2 linked regions of the Homo sapiens genome follow. The protein of the gene in region 1 purifies or fractionates together with the protein of each later gene. This does not show direct contact. Each region holds a gene or a part of one and is shown in the gene's direction. Other genes may lie near its edges. The genes, in order: GPN2 and TUBA3C.

The links.
Region 2: the proteins of GPN2 (region 1) and TUBA3C purify together in Homo sapiens (affinity purification with mass spectrometry, with the first as the bait; 3 studies listed by BioGRID). This does not show direct contact.

What each region holds. Positions count from the first base shown.
Region 1 is NC_000001.11:26,887,115-26,899,580, reverse strand, and holds the start of GPN2 (GPN-loop GTPase 2), read left to right. Parts: upstream 1-9,297; 5' UTR 9,298-9,484; coding exon 9,485-9,895; intron 9,896-10,455; coding exon 10,456-10,612; intron 10,613-12,466. Other genes in the region: GPATCH3 (G patch domain-containing protein 3), read left to right, coding at 1,856-2,280, 5,171-5,345, 6,133-6,192, 6,790-6,911, 7,043-7,170, 8,355-8,571. UniProt on the Homo sapiens protein: Small GTPase required for proper localization of RNA polymerase II and III (RNAPII and RNAPIII). May act at an RNAP assembly step prior to nuclear import.
Region 2 is NC_000013.11:19,178,825-19,186,372, reverse strand, and holds the start of TUBA3C (tubulin alpha-3C chain), read left to right. Parts: upstream 1-4,548; 5' UTR 4,549-4,625; coding exon 4,626-4,628; intron 4,629-6,809; coding exon 6,810-7,032; intron 7,033-7,548. UniProt on the Homo sapiens protein: Tubulin is the major constituent of microtubules, a cylinder consisting of laterally associated linear protofilaments composed of alpha- and beta-tubulin heterodimers.

The sequences.
Region 1 (12,466 bases):
AGTTTGATGGGGAAACAGGACAGTGCAGAGCCCTCCAGTTCACACATTCAACAAATGCTTACATTGCTAGACCTAGTGTGACTAGCTGGGTATGCAGAGAACAGTTGGACATAGTGTGTGCTCAGAATCCACAAAGGAAGACATTTGGAAAAAGGTTATTGCCACAGAGATGTCATTCTAATTGTTAGCATTCACTGAGCACTCTGTATTTAGTAGGCGCTGTTCTAAGCCTTTTGTTTTCTTACCCCTCTCAACAGTCCTATGAGATAGGAGCTGTTGTTTCTCCCATTTCATAGGTGAAGAAACTGAGGGAAGCCGAAGTTATGTGACTTGCCTGAGGTTACAGAGTTAGTTAGTGTCAGAGCTACAACAAACCTAGGCATCTGTTCCAGAGCCTATACTGTTTATCACCAAGTGCTGTGAGATGACAGAGAAGGGAGAAACTAACTTCCTAGATGGATCATGAAATGTGGCTTTCCATCTGGGTCTTGAAAAATAAATAGGAGTTAATAGGAGAGAATGGTGTTTCTGGGTTTCAGGGTAAATGGCGTTTGCAAAGACACAGCTTTGAAAGCCCGTGAAAAACTTTCAGGGCATGTTAAATTGTTCATTGTGGGCTGGGTTGCAATGGCTCGTGCCTGTAATCCCAGCACTTTGGGAGGCACAGGTGGGTGGATCTCTTGAGCTCAGGAGTTCCATACCAGCCTGGGCAACATGGTGAAACCCTGTCTCTACCAAAAATACAAATTAGCCGGTTGTGGTGGCGCATGCCTGTAGTCCCAGCTACTTGTGAGGTTGAGGTGGGGGGATCACTTGAGCCCAGGAGGTGGAGGTTGCAATGAGTCAAGATCGCGCCACTGTACTCCAGCCTGGGTGACAGAACGAGACCCCATCTCAAAAAAAAAAAAAGAAGAAAAAAAAGAAATTAGGAGAAAAATTGTTTGGTGTGGCTGGAACACATCGTATGAAGACATGCAGGAGGTGGGAGTTGGTGACAGCCGAGAATCAAAAGGTCATCAGGTGGGTAGATATCACTTGAGGCCAGGACCAGCCTGGACAACATGGCGTAACCCTGTCTGTACTAGAAATACAAAAATCAGCCAGGCATGGTGGCACATGCCTGTAATCCCAGCTACTTGGGAAGCTGAAGTATGAGAATCACTTGAACCCGGGAGGCGGAGGTTGCGGTGAGCTGAGATTGCACCACTGCATACGCCAGTCTGGGTGACAGAGTGAGAATCTGTCTCAAAAAAAAGAAAAAAAAAGTTCATCAGGAGCCAGAGCTGGAAGAAACTTGTATGCCCAGCCAAGGTGATGAGAAGTGACATGAAACTACTAGGTAGTTCTGTAGTTCCGCTTGGGGAGAGATGAAAAGACCTGGAGAAGTTTGAGAGGGAGGAACAGCATGAGGCTAATGGATTTATTTTATTATTTATTTATTTATTTTTGAGACAGGGTACTCTGTCGCCCGAGATGAAGTGCAGTGGTGCAATCTTGGCTCACTACAGCCTCACCTCCCAGGCTCAAGCAATCCTCCTGCTTCAGCCTCCCAAGGAGCTGGGATCACAGGGTGCACCACCACTCCCAGCTAATTTTTTTATATTTTGTAGAGATAAGGGTCTCACCATTTTGCCCAGGCTGGTCTTGAACTCCTGAGCTCAAGCAATCCTCCTGCCTCAGCCTCCCAAAGTGCTGGGATCACAAGCGTGAGCCACTGTGTCGGCCTAGATTTTTACTAGGGATTTACTAGATGTTTACTAGGGAAAGGCTAACAGATTTAAACATTGGCCAATTTCTGGCTCAAGTGTTGCTGGAGGCTTCTGGGTTTCAAGATCTATTCTCCCTCCTTTCCAAGGTCTGGGCTCCTTTCCCTTCAAGACCCGGAAGGAACTGCAGAGTTGGAAGGCAGAGAATGAAGCCTTCACCCTGGCTGACCTGAAGCAACTGCCGGAGCTGAACCCACCAGTGCTGATGCCCAGAGGGAATGTGGGGACTCCCCTGCGGGTCTTTTTGGAGTTGATCCGGGCCTGCCGCCTACCCCCTCGGATCATCACCCAGCTGCAGCTCCAGTTCCCCAAGACAGGTTCCTCCCGGCGCTACGGCAATGTGCCTTTTGAGTATGAGGACTCAGAGACTGTGGAGCAGGAAGAGCTTGTGTATACAGCAGAGGGTGAAGAAATACCCCAAGGAACCTACCTGGCAGATATACCAGCCAGCCCCTGTGGAGAGCCTGAGGAAGAAGTGGGGAAGGAAGAGGAAGAAGAGTCTCACTCAGATGAGGTGAGTACAGTGTGCTACCCTGTCCTTGCTGGCAGCTGAAAGAGGCCGAAGGCATTAATAATACCACTCTTCAATTGTCTATTACAAGGGTTCTTAACCTGGGGTCCTCAGGAGGGTTCCAAGGAGTCCAAGAAGGAATGTAAAACTATATTTGCATGTGTGTTTCTGTATTTCTGTAGGGAGATGGTCCAGAGCTTTTACCAGAAGATTCGTAAGTGGGTCTTATTTTTCATTCCCTTGGAAGGGATATATAAGGATGGTTCCTTTTTTTTTTTTTTTGAGACGGAGTCTTGCTCTGTTGTCCAGGCTGGAGTGCAGTGGCACGATCTCGGCTCACTGCAAGCTCTGCCTCCTGGGTTCACGCCATTCTCCTGCCTCAGCCTCCCAAGTAGCTGGGACTACAGGCGGCCACCACCATACCCGGCTAATTTTTTGTATTTTTAGTAGAGACGGGGTTTCACTGTGTTAGCCAGGATGGTCTCAATCTCCTGACCTCGTGACCCGCCTGCCTCAGTCTCCCAAAGTGCTGGGATTATAGGCGTGAGCCACTGCGCCTGGCCAGGATGGTTCCTCTTTATTCATTTTTTTCTTTTTTTTTTTGAGACAGAGTCTCACTGTGTCACCCAGGCTGGAGTGAAGTGGTGCGATCTCGGCTCACTGCAACCTCCACCTCCTGGGTTTAAGTGATTCTCCTGCCTCAGCCTCCCGAGTAAGCTGGGACTTCAGGCATGTGCCACCACGCCCGGCTAATTTTTTTTTTTTTTTTTATTTTTAGTAGAGACAGGGTTTCACCGTGTTAACCAGGATAGTCTCAATTTCCTGACCTCGTGACCCACCTGCCTCGGCCTGCCAAAGTGCTGGGATTACAGGCATGACCCACTGCGCCAGGCCCATTTTTTCTTTTTTAAAAATTATTTCCAGCCGGGCACAGAAGCTCTTGAACCCAGGAGGCGGAGGTTGCAGTGAGCTGAGAAAAAAAAAAAAAATTCCACATGAAAGACCAGATAAGGAGAGTTCATTTTCATAGATGAAAATGTGCTGACCAAAACATGTGCAGTGACTTGTCTAAGATCATCTCAGGAAATAGAGGTAGAGCTGGGATATGAACCCAGTTCTTGCTTCTTCTCTAACCTGTGCGTGCTGTCATAATGTGGCTGAACAGTCATCTCTATTTTCTGACCTAGAGTCAGCAGATTGAACAGTAGCCTCCACTCTCACTTCATTAGTGACATAGACATTTCTTTGGTTCCTTTCTCCAAACTTGGTTGCACATCCATAAAATCAAGTAAGGTGTGATTTGTTGGGAAAACTTTTTTAAAAATGTGTACTCCGGGTAAAAAGTAATTCACCCATGTTTCAAAGCTTCCAGCCAGCTGGGTGCAGTGGCTCACACCTGTAATCCCAGCACTTTGGGAGGCCAAGATGGGTGGATCATTTGAGGTCAGGAGTTCGAGACCAGCCTGGCCAACATGGTGAAACCCCACCTTTACTAAAAATACAAAAATTAGCCAGGCGTGGTGCCTGTAGTCCTAGCTACTGGGAGGCTGAGGCAGGAGAATCACTTGAAGCCAGGAGGTGGAGGTTGCAGTGAGCTGAGATCGCACCACTGCACTCCAGCCTGGGCGATAGAGTGAGACTCTGTCTCAAAAAAAAAAAAGCTCCCAGCCAAGATTGCTAAGACATCTGGACCACATCCCTAGTGTGGTACCATCCTGACTTCCCCTCTCCTCTTCTCTCCCCTTCCTTCCTTCCTTTCCTTTTTTTTTTTTTTTTTTTTTAAGCAGGCTCTGGTTCTATTGTCCTGGCTGGAATGCAGTAGTGCAATCTCAGCTCACTGCAACCTCCAACTCCCTGGGCTCAAGCCATCCTCACCTCAGCTTCCCTAGTAGCTAGGACTACACTCACACATCACCACACTTGGCTAATTTTTGTATTTTTTGTAGAGATAGGGTTTTGACTTGTTGCCTAGACTGGTCTTGAACCTCTGAGCTCAAGGGATCCTCCCACCTTGGCCTCCCAAAGTGCTGGGATTACAGGCGTGAGCCACTGCGTCTGGCCCCATCCTGACTTTTCTTCAGCACTTGAAGGCCTACAGGGTTTCAAGCTAGGAGTCATTGTATCATTCCACAAGTCCCGTCAAGCCAAGGGCTAGTGTAGGATTCCAAAGGCATTCTAAGACCCATTTCCTGCCCTCAAAGAGCCTAAAATCTCCCTGAAGAGAAAGAACCAGCATCTGGAGATGCTGCACCTGGATGTGGCCACCCGGGTTTGCATTGCTGGCTCTGCTGCTCCCTCAGTGTACTCTTTTGGACAAAGAACTTTTTACTCCCCTGAACCTAGGTTTTGTCATCTGTAGAATGGGAATAATGGTACTTATCTCATAGGGTTGTTGCAGTGGTTAAAGGAGCTAAGCTATGGGAAGGGCCTGACACACCAGAGACAATAAGCATTATTGTCCATTCTTTCTTTGTGATATGACATAAAAAGGCCTAACCAGTGTGTACTGATTAGCATTGGGAGTTCAGAGACTGGTATGAGAGCTGTGGGCCTAAATGTGGGGGGCTTCATGTAGGCTGTATGACTTGAGGGATGAGGAGGATTTAATCAAGTGGAGAAGAGAAGGGTGTGGGAGAGGAAAGTGGGTATTTCAGGCAGGGAACAACATGGCCAAACGCGCAGAGGTGAGTCAGGCTTGTGGGGACAGGAGCAAACTGTTGAGAATTATCGGGCTGGAGACGTGTTGGTCAGGGGCCAAATATGTGCTGCTTCTTGGAGAAATCTGAAGGAATGGCGCTGAGGCTAGCCACACATGCCTCCTGTGCCCTGAGCTTCCCTCCCTCGGGGCATGAGGTCAGGAAGCTCAGGCAAATCACCTCTCCCTGCCTTTTAGGACGATGACCGGGGTGAGGAATGGGAACGGCATGAAGCGCTGCATGAGGACGTGACCGGGCAGGAGCGGACCACTGAGCAGCTCTTTGAGGAGGAGATTGAGCTCAAGTGGGAGAAGGGTGGCTCTGGCCTGGTGTTTTATACTGATGCCCAGTTCTGGCAGGAGGAAGAAGGAGGTAATGCTGGTACCCAGGCAAAGGCAGGGGTGACCCCTGCTGCATTCTTTTGGGGTTCCCTGTTCCACACGGTAGATTCTGTAGTGGTGAGCCCAAACAAAAGGCTAGGGAACAGGCTGACCTCTATTGTATACGAGAGACCAATCATCCTTTTTAAGAGTGGGGATCAGTGAGATGGAGAGAAAATGCCCCCCGCCCCGCCCCCAACAAATTCTGAATAACCCTCCCAGAGGAAGGATCTTAAAATACAAACAAGCTGGGTGCAATGGCTCATGCCTGTAGTCCGAACTACTTAAGAGACTGAGGCAGGAGGATCACTTGAGCCCAGGAGTTCAAGGTTGCAGTGAGCTATGATTCCACCACTTTACTCCAGCCTGGGGGACAGAGTGAGACCTTCTCTAAAACAAACAAATGCCCCGCTGGGTGCAGTGGCTCACGCCTGTAATCCCAGCACTTTGGGAGGCTGAGGTGGGCAGATCACGAGGTCAAGAGATCGAGACCGTCCTGGCCAACATGGTGAAACCTCGTCTCTATGAAAAATACAAAAATTAGCTGGGTATGGTGGCATGCACCTGTAGTCCCAGCTACTTGGGAGGCTGAGGCAGGAGAATCACTTGAACCCGGGAGGCAGAGGTTGGAGTGAGCCAAGGTCATGCCACTGCACTCCAGAATGAGATTCTGTCTCAAAAAAAAAAAAAAAAAAAAAGCCAAAAAAACTCTAGGTTTAACTCTTAATAGAACTGAGAGTCCTTAATGTACTCTGTTGGATGCTTTTCTGTCCCTACAGATTTTGATGAACAGACAGCCGATGACTGGGATGTGGACATGAGTGTGTACTATGACAGAGGTACTGGGCAAGGAGTGGCAATACTGGAGGTGAAACAGGTGCCCTGGCCTTGCAGTGACACTTTACCAGAGCTAGCAAAGGCTGAGACAGGGTACCGTTCCCGTTCCCTTGGGGTAGCCCACTGAGAGGGTTCCTCTTAAAACATCTTTGGTTGTGTACATTAAGTGCTAGTTTTGGACAGAGCCTTCATCCTTTCTTGGAGGAGGAGGAGGGATAGATAGCCCTTAGGGGCTCTAGGTCTGATGGTCAGGCCCTGGTAGGGTGGGCTGGTCAGAAGCTCAGGCTCTAGTAAGGGTTTAGATTTTAGAAGAGGAAATGACCCGGGTGGGGGAAATAGCCAAGTAGGGGAGGGAAGACCTGGGTTCTAATCCTCTCTCTGTCATTTGTTGGCTCTGTTACTTTTCTGCACCACAATCTTCTCATCTGTATGATTGGGGAGAGCCATGGTTCCTACTTTTGGGGAGCTCCCAGTCTAATGAGAGAGATACAGAACACTATTAAAATGAATAAGTCAATCTTACGAGGGGGTCCTAGAAACCTGATTCTTCCCCCTTCTTTGAGAGGGACGCTTCCATAAACTGAGCTCTGTTTCCTCAGATGGTGGAGACAAGGATGCCCGAGACTCTGTCCAAATGCGTCTGGAACAGAGACTCCGAGATGGACAGGAAGATGGCTCTGTGATCGAACGCCAGGTGGGCACCTTTGAGCGCCACACCAAGGTGAGTTAGCACTGTGCCCACCCCATGGACCCCTCTCTTTTCCTTCTCTACTTTAATTCCTTCTCCCATCCCCATTCTCCCTGCTCCCAGCAGGAGCCCCATTTCTTGAGTCTTGTCCCTTCACTCTGCAGGGCATTGGGCGGAAGGTGATGGAGCGGCAGGGCTGGGCTGAGGGCCAGGGCCTGGGCTGCAGGTGCTCAGGGGTGCCTGAGGCCCTGGATAGTGATGGCCAACACCCCAGATGCAAGCGTGGATTGGGGTAAGTGTGACTGAGGGACTTCCCTGGGGGCCCAAGCCTTTCAGCTATGCCCTGGTTTCCCTCTTCCCACTGGTTTTGGCATGGCTGCTGGGTACTCGTGCGGGATGAAATTCAAAACAGTTAAGAGGAAAAAGTGGATCTGGGCCAGGCACGGTGGCTCAAGCCTGTAATCCTAGCGCTTTGGGAGGCTGAAGTGGTAGGATTCCTTGAGCCCAGTTTGAAACCAGCCGGGCAACATATGAGACTGTCTCTGTTAGAAAAATAAAAAGTCCGGGCGTGGTAGCTCACGCCTGTAATCCCAACACTTTGGGAGGCCCAGGTGGGCAGATCATTTGAGGTCAGGAGTTAGAGACCAGCCTGGCCAACATGGTGAAATCCCCGTCTCTACTAAAAATACAAAAATTAGCCGGGCGCAGTGGCTCATGCCTGTAATCCTAGCACTTTGGGAGGCTGAGGCGGGTGGATCACGAGGTCAGGAGTTTCAGACCAGCCTGATCAAGATGGTGAAACCCTGTGTCTACTAAAAATACAAAAAATTAGCTGGGCACGGTAGTGGGTGCCTGTAATCCCAGCTACTCAGGAGGCTGAGGCAGGAAAATCGCTTGAACCCAGGAGGCAGAGGTTGCAGTGAGCCAAGATGGCGCCACTGCACTCTAGCCTGGGTGACAGAGCAAGACTCTGTCACAAAAAAAAAAAATTAGCTGGGCATGGTGGCATGCGCCTGTAGTCCCAGCTACTCTGGAGGCTGAGGCAGGAGAATCGCTTGAACCCAGGAGGTGGAGGTTGCAGTGAGCCGAGATCACGCCATTACAATCCAGCCTGGGTGACATAGTGAGACCCCATCTCAGAAATAAATAAATAAATAAAGTAAATCTGACTTTTTTTTTTTTTTTAAAGAGTAAGCCCTAAGGCTTAACAAGATCATTCATACCCTTTGTTGGAGGAGTTTGGACTTGATGGTTACTATTAGGAAGTCTGTAGTGACAGAATGAAAATTTTATATGAGGCCCCTTCTTGCTGGCACTGTCAATGGATAGATAAGAGGGCTGGAGAACAAAGACCCAGATTTAAAGCCTCTGTCTTTGGACAAACCAGATATGTAGTAACTACTTCCCCGTCCTCTCCCAACCCCTTTAACTGGAGTTTGAGAGCAGCCTTCTCACTGAGAGCCCGTTTTTATCCAGGTACCATGGAGAGAAGCTACAGCCATTTGGGCAACTGAAGAGGCCCCGTAGAAATGGCTTGGGGCTCATCTCCACCATCTATGATGAGCCTCTACCCCAAGACCAGACGGAGTCACTGCTCCGCCGCCAGCCACCCACCAGCATGAAGTTTCGGACAGACATGGCCTTTGTGAGGGGTTCCAGTTGTGCTTCAGACAGCCCCTCATTGCCTGACTGACCGGGTTGGGGGCTTCCTTTCATAGCTACATGATGAAAACCCTCTGCCCTGGCCTCATCTACCACTGAAGCAGAAAGGAGTCTGGGAGCAGCAGTCTTCGTGGCTGGTTCAGGGTGTTTTGTTCCGAGCCTGCCTGCCTGCCGGTTCTATACCTCAGGGGCATTTTTACAAAAAGCCCCCTCCCGTCCCCTCCCCTTGGATATTAGGGGTAACGACCGCTTGTCTTTGGTCTCTAACCCTAATCTCTGGGCTTGCCCTTTGCCTCCTGCAGAACTTTGAAAAGCTGGGTTGAGTGAGGCTATCAGCACAGCCTTCCTTGGGGACTCTGAAGGTGTCCCCACGAAGGCCAGAAAGGGGGAAAGGGACCTGGGCGAGGAGAGGATTTGTGGTGCTTGGAAGAGCCGGCCTTGGGTGGGCCCTCCACCGCCTCTACCCTCACTGGGTGGGACTGCCAGCGGAGAGTCCGCGGGAGGTGGCTTGGGTGTGCGACGTCACGGAAGAATAAAGACGTTTACTACTGGAGCTCCCTTACTTTTCTAATTCGAGTCTGAAGGTTAGAGAAATTCCGAGAGCGATTTTCCCGCAAAGACCCCACATTCGACCCACTACCCGCGAGAGAAATGCGGCTGCGCCGCCCGCCCCTCGGCGTCTAGCTTCGTCCCCGCCGTGAGGGCGGGACTTCCTCTCGTTGGCTCGCCGTTTCCGACGCTGTCCGGAAGTCGAGTTAGTCTAGTTAGTATCGGCCTGTTATCTCCTTTTGCGCGACACGGTCTCAGCTGTTCCGCCTGAGGCGAGTGACGCTGGCCGCCAACGAGGTATACGTACTGGGACCCTCGCCCTCAGTCTCGTCTCCGGCGCGGCTACCTGCCCCGTTTTCCCTGTGAGTTGACCTGCTCCGGGCCGCGGGCCGCCAATGGCAGGGGCCGCTCCGACCACGGCCTTCGGGCAGGCGGTGATCGGCCCGCCGGGCTCAGGGAAGACCACGTACTGCCTGGGCATGAGTGAGTTCCTGCGCGCGCTGGGCCGGCGCGTGGCGGTGGTGAACCTGGACCCGGCCAACGAGGGGCTGCCGTACGAGTGTGCCGTGGACGTGGGCGAGCTGGTGGGGCTGGGCGACGTGATGGACGCGCTGCGCCTGGGGCCCAACGGCGGCCTGCTCTACTGCATGGAGTACCTGGAAGCCAACCTGGACTGGCTGCGTGCCAAGCTCGACCCCCTCCGCGGCCACTACTTCCTCTTCGACTGCCCAGGCCAGGTGGAGCTCTGCACGCATCACGGCGCCTTGCGCAGCATCTTCTCCCAAATGGCGCAGTGGGACCTCAGGGTGCGTCTCAGGGCGGGGAGGCCCATTTTGCGGATGGAGTAACTGAGACAGGGAGGACAGACGCCACGCCCCCATGTCACACAGGGAGGTAGGGGCTGGGTCGCTTTGGAGTAAAACAGGCATGAGTTCAGAATCTGGCTCTGCTACTGACTGGCTGTGTGGTGTTGATAAGTCAGTTCATCACTCTGAACCTCAGTTTCCTCACGTGTAAAATGTGTTAGTAGCCAACTTGGCGATTTTGGAAGTATGGAAGGGGTTAATGTCGAAAGTGGCATGGAGATTGTTGTAAATTGGTGGGCAAAAGTAAATGAAAGAGTGGAGTCAGATGCCATGGGATTTAAACCCCTTGCCCACTGGGAGGCTCAGTGCAAGACCTCTTGTAAGAAAAAAAAAATGACTCCTATTTCCTGGGAGAAGGAAACCAGGGTGGTTATTAGAAAGAAACAGAGGCAGGAGACTAATGGGGAAAGCTTCCCCTCTGTCCTCAAGCCCTCATTCTCATGAGGGAATGCTGATCCCTGTTTCTCCAGGCCACTCTCACCCTGTCTATTCCCTCCCAGCTGACTGCCGTCCACCTCGTGGATTCTCACTACTGCACAGACCCTGCCAAGTTCATTTCAGTACTGTGTACCTCCCTGGCCACCATGCTGCACGTGGAACTGCCCCACATCAACCTCCTTTCCAAGATGGACCTCATTGAGCATTATGGGAAGCTGGGTAAGAGCTTCTGTTCCAGGCGAAGAGCAGGGCAGCAGCTGGGCTAGAATGAAGCAGACATCTCAGCTGAAGGTAGCTGCCTCTGGTGCCTTGCGTGGTCTGGTGATAGTAGCCACAGGCAGGTTCTAACTCCTGCCCATTTATTTTGTGCCACTCTGTGCTAGTTACCGTTGTAGATTTTGGAGACAAGAGAGCTACAGATGGTGTTAGGTGTTACAAAGGAATTAAAGTGATACGACAGTGAATATTTGGGAGTGAAGTGAGTGAGCTTTGGAGTAAAACAGGCATGAGTTTAAATTCTGGATCTGCCACTGAATCATCGTGTGGTCTGGGTAAGTCAGTTCATCTCTCTGGACCTCAGTTTCTCACTTCTGCTCTGAAGCAGTGGCATCTGAGCTGAGACATGAATGGTGAGAAGGAGCCAGCCAAGGGAGGACTGTTCTATGCAGAGGCACTAGTAGGAATAAAGGCCTTGTCTTAGTCAGTTTGTGCTGCCATCACAAAAATACCATAGACCAGATGGCTTAGCCAATAAATATTTATTTCTCACAGTTCTGGAGGCTGGTAAGTCCAAGATCAAGACACAAGCCGATCTGGTGTCTGGTGAGAGTCTGCTTCCTGGCTCCTAGACAGCCTCCTTCTGTCCTCACAGAAGGAGGCTATATTCTCACCTGGCACAGAGACAGAGAAGGGGTGGGAGGCCAGGGACAAAATAGGGAAGATTGAGGTAGAAGCAGGCTGGTATGAGGCAGGGGAGTTGGCTAGAGTCCCAGTGGCCAGCTTTTTTTTCTTGATAAATTAGTACTCTCGGCTGGGCGTGGTGGCTCACGCCTGTAATCCCAGCACTTTGGGAGGCCGAGGTGGGCAGATCACCTGAGGTCAGGAGTTCGAGACCAGCTTGACCAACATGGAGAAACCACATCTCTACTAAAAATACAAAAAAGTAGCCAGGCATGGTGGTGCATGCCTGTAATCCCAGCTACTCGGGAGGCTGAGGCAGGAGAATCGCTTGAACCTGGAAGGCGGAGGTTGTAGTGAGCCGAGATCTCGCCATTGCACTCCAGCCTGGGCAATAAGAGTGAAACTCCGTCTCAAAAAAAAAAAATTAGGCCAGGCGCAGTGGCTCACGCCTGTAATCCCAGCACTTTGGGAGGCCGAGGCAGGTGGATCACGAGGTCAGGAGCTTGAGAACATCCTGGCTAACACTGTGAAACTCCGTCTCTACTAAAAATACAAAAAATTAGCTGGGCATGGTGGCGGGCACCTGTAGTCCCAGCTACTCAGGAGGCTGAGGCAGGAGAATGGCGTGAACCCAGGAGAGGGAGTTTGCAGTGAGCCGAGATCATGCCAGTGCACTCCAGCCTGGGCGACAGAGCAAGACTCTGTCTCAAAAAAAAAAAAAAATTAGTACTCTCCTGAACTGGGGACATTGTTCCCTAAATAGCATCTCTAGCAACAAAGGAACCTAGAGAAGACAGATAAAATGACCAGCACATGAGCAATAGGGAGGTTGTTGGGAAAGGGAGGTGTCGGGACCTTGTCCAGGGAGGCCAGTTAGCTTCTAGTCTGGACATGGAGTGATGTAGAGTCCTCAGCTTACTTTAGGATAGAGCTGCCAGGGAGCCCAGATACTTAAGTTTTCTGGGCAGAAACAGGCCACTAGGGGGAAGTCCAACTTACTTCTTTTAGTGAGAAATGATTTATAAAACTGAATCAGGGACCTCAGCATCATCTAGTCCTTATTTTACATTAAGAAATAACTGGCTCAGAAAAGGAAAGTGATTTACCCAGGAGGCTACCCTGCTAGAATGTAGCATTTATTCAGTTTAACCATTTACAGAGTCTTTGCAGTGT
Region 2 (7,548 bases), on another chromosome or scaffold:
AGAAAACAAAGAAAAGAAAAGAAAATTAAGAAGAAAAAGATTTAAATCAAAGTCTCCCTGGGTGGAGAGCCACAGTTGGACTTACCGTGAGGTCAGCTGTACTGACAACCCAACCTTACCACTTGCTGCACTGATGACCCTGACCTCCCCACAGCCAATCTGGTCAACAATGTGGTTGTTTAGTCGCTGTCACACCTGCTGGACTGTGACTGGAAGTGAGGAGAGGTGGAGCAAGCTGGCAGGGCAGCTCCCGCATGGGGAGGAAAGGCCTCCCCAGGCCTCTCTGCCCGGCTCAGAGTTATTGTGACTACATTAAGCAATGAGACAGCACCCAGACCACACTGCAGTCCCAGACAAGTCATGCAGGGGAATCACACCACAGATGATCTTAAGTAGCAATTTGGGTTTACAATCTGGCACATTTTAGAGGACAGACCACAAACTATAGGTCCAAGGACTTAAGTGTATAAATGAATGTATTTTAGAAAACAGAACCTACTTGTGTTATTACTACTATACTGGCATTTGAACATAAAGTTTCACACATCTTACTAAAAACCAAATTTATGAAGAAGTTATGGGGGAATTACCCACATTTTAACAAATGGTCTTTTTTGCAGCTCCCTGTCATCACATGGTGGAGAGAGAAGGGGGAGTCACTGGTGTCAGGCCCAGCGTATCACTGCAGATAACACAGACATAGTTCCTCATTCAAAATTGGCAGGGGTGGGGGAGTTGCTGCTTACTTTGTGGGGTTGAACTGGAGATGGCAGATGACTGCGAAGTGGGTGCCTGCTGCAGGCAAGGTGCTAGTAGGCAGCCATGACTGGGAGCCAAGCTCAGCCAGCTGACACGAGCTATGCAGCACCCGGCTGGTCCCTAGATCCAGGCTTGGCCCTGGTGTCCTGCATGCAGCAGGGACAGTCCATGAGTAGGAGTCCCAAGAAGGTCTTTAAACATCTGTATGAACTCAACCTTACAAAACTGCAAAGTCTCGTAAGCCTTTCTCACCCAGAACTGAGCCACCTACCTTGCGCAGGTCCTCATTCTCCTGCCACACCATGCTGCCTCTCTGGCCCTGCCAGCCGCTGCGTAAAATCTTGGCAAAGTGTCCTTGTCCTCAAGTTGTCACTCAAGCCTGTTTGAATCTGAGCAAAAGAGGAAATAATTTGTGCTCCTTTCTGTGTAGTGACTATATGTAAACTTTGTTAGCTGGCTTACTGCAAGGATTTAATAATTGACAACACTTTTTTTTTAGTACTGTATACTAAATAAAATACACAAAGCAGCAATACTTACGGGCCAGAAATACTGTTTACTACAAGTCAGTTATGGAATCATAACTTACAGTAAAAATGGGCACGTCCAAGACTCAATTTTTATTTTGTTATTTACAGTAGAGTAAATATTTTGTTCCTAATTTTCCACACTCTCTACTGGGAATATGTGTTACTTTTATAATCAGAAAAATAAATATTGCAGTCATGTGGCACATAATGATGTTTTGGACAACAGCAGACAGCATATACAACAGTGGCCCCATAAGATTATAATACCATTATTTTTCATGTAGCTTTTCTATGTTTAGATACACAAATCCTTACTGTACAGGTCTGTAGCTGAGGGGCAATATGCTGTACCATGTGGCCTAGGTGGGCAGTAGGCTGCTCCATGTAGGTTGGTCTAAGTACACTCTATGATGTTCTCACGTCAACGAAATTGCCTGATGATGGCTTTCTGAGAGCGTATCCCAGCCTCTGAGGGACGCATGACTGTACTGAAGAGCATGGGGTGACATGGGCTACAGCTGAGTTCTGTGCATGATGTGGTTGGAGCCCTGAGGAAGGGGAGGGCTGTGGACTGAACTGTGTCCCCCCATTATTAGACACTGAAGCTCCGATCCCCAATGTGACTGTATTTGGGGATGGGGCCTATAAGGAAATGATGATGATTATGTGAGGTCATAAGGGTGGGCCCTGATCCAGTAGGATTCGTGTCCTTATAAGAGACCAGGGAGCTTGAGTGCTGCCTTCCCCCACCCTGTGGGAGGACATGGTAAGAAGGTGGCTGTGTGCCAGCCAGGACAAGAGGCCTCTGGGACTTTTAGCCTCCAGAACTGTGAGAAAATAAAACTCTGTTGTTTAAGCTACTCAGTCGATGGTATTTTTTTAGGGCAGCCGGAGCCGACTAAGATGGAAGGATTCACCCTTCTGGGGAGAAGAGGCAGGAGGCAAGAGGCCTCCTCTGGTTTCCCTGGCTCTCCACAGATCTCCCTCCCTGCTCCTCCTCTTTGTGCCAAAACATCCTTCTAAGGGCAGACCTGATTGCACTGTTCAGAGGTCCCCAAAGCCCACAGAAAAGTCTCAACTCCTGGACCTCGTGAGTCCCATCCCACTGGGGGAGCTCCCTCTCTCTTCTCTGCTCTCCTCTCAGGAGGGAAAGTTAAGAGCCTGCTTGGCCACCCTCTAGGGAGATGCCATGATAGGGTGCTGCATCCTGGTGATGAGCTGGGGGTAAGCCAGCACGTCTCCTCCAGGCCTTTTCTCAGAACTGAATATACACTGTTAAGATGATCTTTAGAAATGGAAGAATCAAACTGGGAAGAATTACACGCCTGTAGTCCCAGCCTACAAGGAAGCCTGAGGCATAAGGATCACTTGAGCCCAGGGGTTTTGAGTCCAGCCTGGTCAACATGGTGAGAACCAGTGTCCAAAAAATAAATAAATAAGCAATAAATAAATAAGAATCAGGTGACTGTTCCAGACTCCTCCAAAATGGGCATTGTGTCCCTACTCTGCTCTTCCCAGGACAGGGCTGTGCCTTCCCCTTTCCTGGTGGCCATAAACCCAGTCCCTCTCACTAAAGGAGAGAGAAAAGAAAAAGTGTTCAAAGCACTTTGAGTTATGCGAGGTGTGCAGAATGTATCAGGCCCAGAGAGACAGGAATATGGGACTTCAGTCACACACCTCATACCCATGCCCCAGCAGCTGTGTAAAGGCATTTTGTTCCTGACTAGCTTTATCTTCCTGTTACTAGAATTTGTGATACAAAAGACAATATAGAGCCAATAAATAGCTTATGTTATTTTAATATACATTCCTCTGGCCAGGCCAGCCAAGGTGGGAGGCTCCCTTCCGGCCAGGAGTTCAAGACCAGGCTGGGCAACACAGCAAGACTCTGTCTCTATTTGTAAAATTCTTGGTAAACAATTTAGAAACTGCCCCTTCTTTTCCTTTAAAAACCCATTTGTAACTGCTGCTAATTAGAGTGTATATTAAGGCAACTTGCATCTCCAAGGTTGCAGTTCGCAAACTTGGCCCAAATAAACTGTATTTTTTTTTAGTTTTTTATTTTTTGTGAGACGGAATCTCCCTCTGTCACCCAGGCTGGAGTGCAGTGGCACAATCTCGGCTCACTGCAACCTCCACCTCCCGGATTCAAGCGATTCTTGTGCCTCAGCCTCCCGAGTAGCTGGGATTACAGGCACCCATCACCATGTCCGGCTAATTTTATTCATTTTTTATTTTTTGTAGAAACGGGGGCAGGACGGGTCTCACCACGTTGCCCAGGCTGGTTGCAAACTCCTGACCTCAAGCAATCCTCCGGCGGAGGCCTCCCAAAGCACTGGAATTACAGGCCTGAGGCACTGCGCCCAGCCCAACCTCTCCACCTATATTAATTTTACCTCTGCTTCTTCTTTTCTTTTCTTTTCTTTTTTTTTTTAAGACGGAGTCTCGCCCAGGCTGCAGTGCGATCTCGGCTAACTGCAACCTCTGCCTCCCGGGTTCAAGCAATTCCCCAGCCTCAGCCTCCCGAGTAGCTGGGATTACAGGCACGCCCACCATACCCGGATAGTTTTTGTATTTTTAGTAGAGACGGGATTTCACCATGTTGGCCAGGTTGGTCTCCAACTCCTGACTTCAGGTGATCTGCCCGCCTCTGCCTCCGAAGTGATGGGATTACAGACGTGAGCCACAGAAACCCACTCACTTTTTCCTTTCAGATCACAAAAGTGATCGAATCCCGCCACTTCCCGGGTGCTGGGTGGGAAGGTGGGGTGATTGCTGTGCTGCTGTGACTTGGGTAGATGCCGTGAAGGCCTCTCAAAGGCGGCCATGTTTGCAAAGATCTGAATAAGGCACCTCCAGAGGAACCGGTCTGGGGCAACTGGGGAGGAGGCAGCGGCACAAGTTCGTGGTCAAGCCACTGCAAGGCTGGGAGCTTACTTACAAAGCAATGTTCCTCCACCTATAAAGACGCAGTAGCTGCTCCATCCCCGGTCAGAGGACCCCCGGAAACGTCTCAGCCCACGCACTGCCCTCTGACCCCACTGCCTTCCCGCCAGTCCTGCATCCAGTCAGAGGGCCCTCTCTGAGCCTGCTGCCTTCCCGCCAATCCTGCATCCAATCAGAGGGCGTCCCCACTACGTGGTTTGCACAACGGCCAATCAAAACTAGGATCCGAGCCTTGGCCCGCCTCCCAGGACGTCCGGACCAATGGTGGCCTGGCACCAGCAGGCCAATCCCAGACAGCGCACGGCGGGAGGCTGTCGTTGGGCGTGCGCAGCTGCAGCGGCGGTTGAGGTCAAGTAGTAGCGTTGGGCTGCGGCAGCGGAGGAGCTCAACATGGTAAGGCCAGGTCACTCCCACCCCGCAGACGCCCAGGCTGGAGGGTGGACGAAGTTGGCCTCCTGAGGTGGCTGGATGGAGGGATGCTGTTGCGGGCCAGGGTGCAGAAAGGAGGTCAGAGAAGGATGCGGGGCCCAGGGCGGGACACGAGGACACGGCATCGTCTGCTGGGTCTGCGGGCTCCAGGGCAGGGATGGCAGCTTTTGTTTTAGACGAAGCTGCCGGCCTTGAGTCAGTGGACGGGGAGCATTGACCGTGTCCTGTCCCCCAGAGAGCAAACAGTGGTGCCGCCTCCTGAAGACAGAAGGGCGCTGCTCCCGCTTTCCGGTCTCCAAATGTCTCTGTCCTATTGGAAACCACTGAGGAGCCCCAGGAGCCTTGTTGATGGAGGCAAGGGCTGTGGACATTGGTCAGATCAGGAATTAAAGCTCAGACGGGAGTTGGAGGCGGGGAATCCCCTGAGGTCAGGGGCTCCTCACTAGCCTGGCCAATATGGCGAAATCCCTTCTCTACTAAAAATAGAAAAATTCCCGGGGTGGAGGCGTGGATCTGTGGTTCCAGCTACTCGGGAGGCTGAGGTGGGAGGGTCAGCTGAGCCCAGGACTTCGAGGCCGCAGTGAGTCATGATGGTGCCACTGCACTCCAGCTTGTGCGACAGAGAGAGACCCTGCCTCAAAAAAAAAAAAAAGCAACCAACGCATTCACATAAAGAATAGATTTCTAAGTCCCAAGTCTGAATAGCAGTGGCCGTGGTTTGTCAAGTATCTTTTTTTTTTTTTTTTTGAAACGGCTCAACAACAGCTCTGTTGCCCAGGCTGGAGCACAGTTGCACGATCACGGCTCCCTGCAGCCTTGAACCCCTGGGCTCCAGCAATCCTCCTGCCTCAGCCTCCTGAGTAGCTGGGACTACAGGTGTGTGCTGCCACAGCTGGCTAATGTTTAAATTTTTCGGCCGGGCGCTGTGGCTCACGCCTGTAATCCCAGCACTTTGGGAGGCCAAGGCGGGCATATCAAAAGGTCAGGAGATCGAGACCATCCTGGCTAACACGGTGAAACCCCATCTCTACTAAAAATACAAAAAATTAGTTGGGCATAGTGGCCTGTAGTCCCAGCTACGTGGGAGACTGAGGCAGGAGAATTGCTTGAACCCGGGAGGCAGAGGCTGCAGTGAGCTGAGATTGTGCCACTGCATTCCAGCCTGGGTGACAGAGCAAGACTCTGTTTAAAAAAAAAAAATTTTTTTTCATAGTTGCCCAGGCTGGTCTCAAACTGGTCCCAAGCGATCTCAGCTCAGCCTCCCAAAGTGCTGGAATTACAGGCATGAGCCACCACATCCGGCTTGTCAGGGCTTAAAGAAACCACCAAGGACAGTGCAGTGTCCCAGCACTGATGACATCTGGGAGCCATTACACTCCTAGGCTTCAAGGGGTAGAGGGGAGGGAGTGCTTACGAAAAATTGAGAGGGTAACTTTATGAAGAGGGCCACCTGCCAAAAGTGTGGCCTTGATGGAGGGATTTGTATCGCCCATGAAAGGTGAGCAGGAAGGGGCCAAGGGGAGAGTACCCTGACGCCACTCTCCTCCAGCCTCCTGGTCTCCTGCGGCTGCCTGTCATTGAACAAACCAGCACGAAGCCAGAGAGCAAGGAAGGCCTCTGATGCTGTCCTCATGGGTCAGCCTCGGAGAGCACAGGGCGGGTGGTGAATGATGGAGGGTAGATCTGGGGGTGCAGAGAGAGGACACATACTGAACACCTGGGCTTGGACCACAGTGACCTGGGACCTACTCTCTATTTCCTTACCCAACCCCATTACCTTATCCTTTGGTAGGACATAATCAAAAACTGCTATGTATTCTTCAGAGAATTACTGTGACTGGCTATAATGTGGGTTTGATTACTGACATTACATGGCTTCCAAGTTTTAAAATAATCTAATTTTTGTGTAGTGGCAAACATTAGGTTCTAGGGCTACCTCTGGAACTTAGCAGCTGGGATGGTGTAGAGCAAGTAAGTTTTCACAGGGATAAAGGGGTCAGTCACCTAACCCTCCTAGGAAATATCAATTGTGAAAGCACCAGATACTGAAGCAGTATATAAATATTAAATTATAATATTTTGCATACCATATAGCTTCAAGTTGCCTTGAAATGAATGGGTCTACATTTATGTTCTGGTTCACAGCGTGAGTGTATCTCTATCCACGTGGGGCAGGCAGGAGTCCAGATCGGCAATGCCTGCTGGGAACTGTACTGCCTGGAACATGGAATTCAGCCCGATGGTCAGATGCCAAGTGATAAAACCATTGGTGGTGGGGACGACTCCTTCAACACGTTCTTCAGTGAGACTGGAGCTGGCAAGCACGTGCCCAGAGCAGTGTTTGTGGACCTGGAGCCCACTGTGGTCGGTAGGTGCTCGGGTCCTGGATGGCAGCTTTCTTAGGAGGGTGGGAGAGCATCGTCGGTAAGGCCCCATGTGGGCTCCTTTGAATCCTCCTGCAGAAGGTATGAGATAGACAAGCATATTCCCATGGTGTTAACAGAAACTGAAAGGTTCGTGATTAAAGTGTCTGTGAGATTCGGCTCCTAAGTTAGGAAAACCTGGCCTACAGGGAAAAGCTGCTTTGCCAACAGTAAGATGGGCTGTGGAGAGATTCCGTCGTGGCTGCCTCAGCCCTGTTCAGGTGGCCCTGCCTGCAGGGCACAATGGCATTGGTTTCCTCCTGAATGCTGTGTACTCTTATGCTGGTGCAAGAGAGTCTTGACCTGCATCTTAGGCATAGAAGGTTAAGTACAGAACAGTCATTTGCTTCCTCCAGATTAGAAGCCCAGGATAGTTTCCAAGGAGAGCTGCAAAGAGACAGCCCCTTTCAGTGGCCCCACATGAGATGACAGTGTCACCTGAAAGCCTGTGGGGCCCAGGC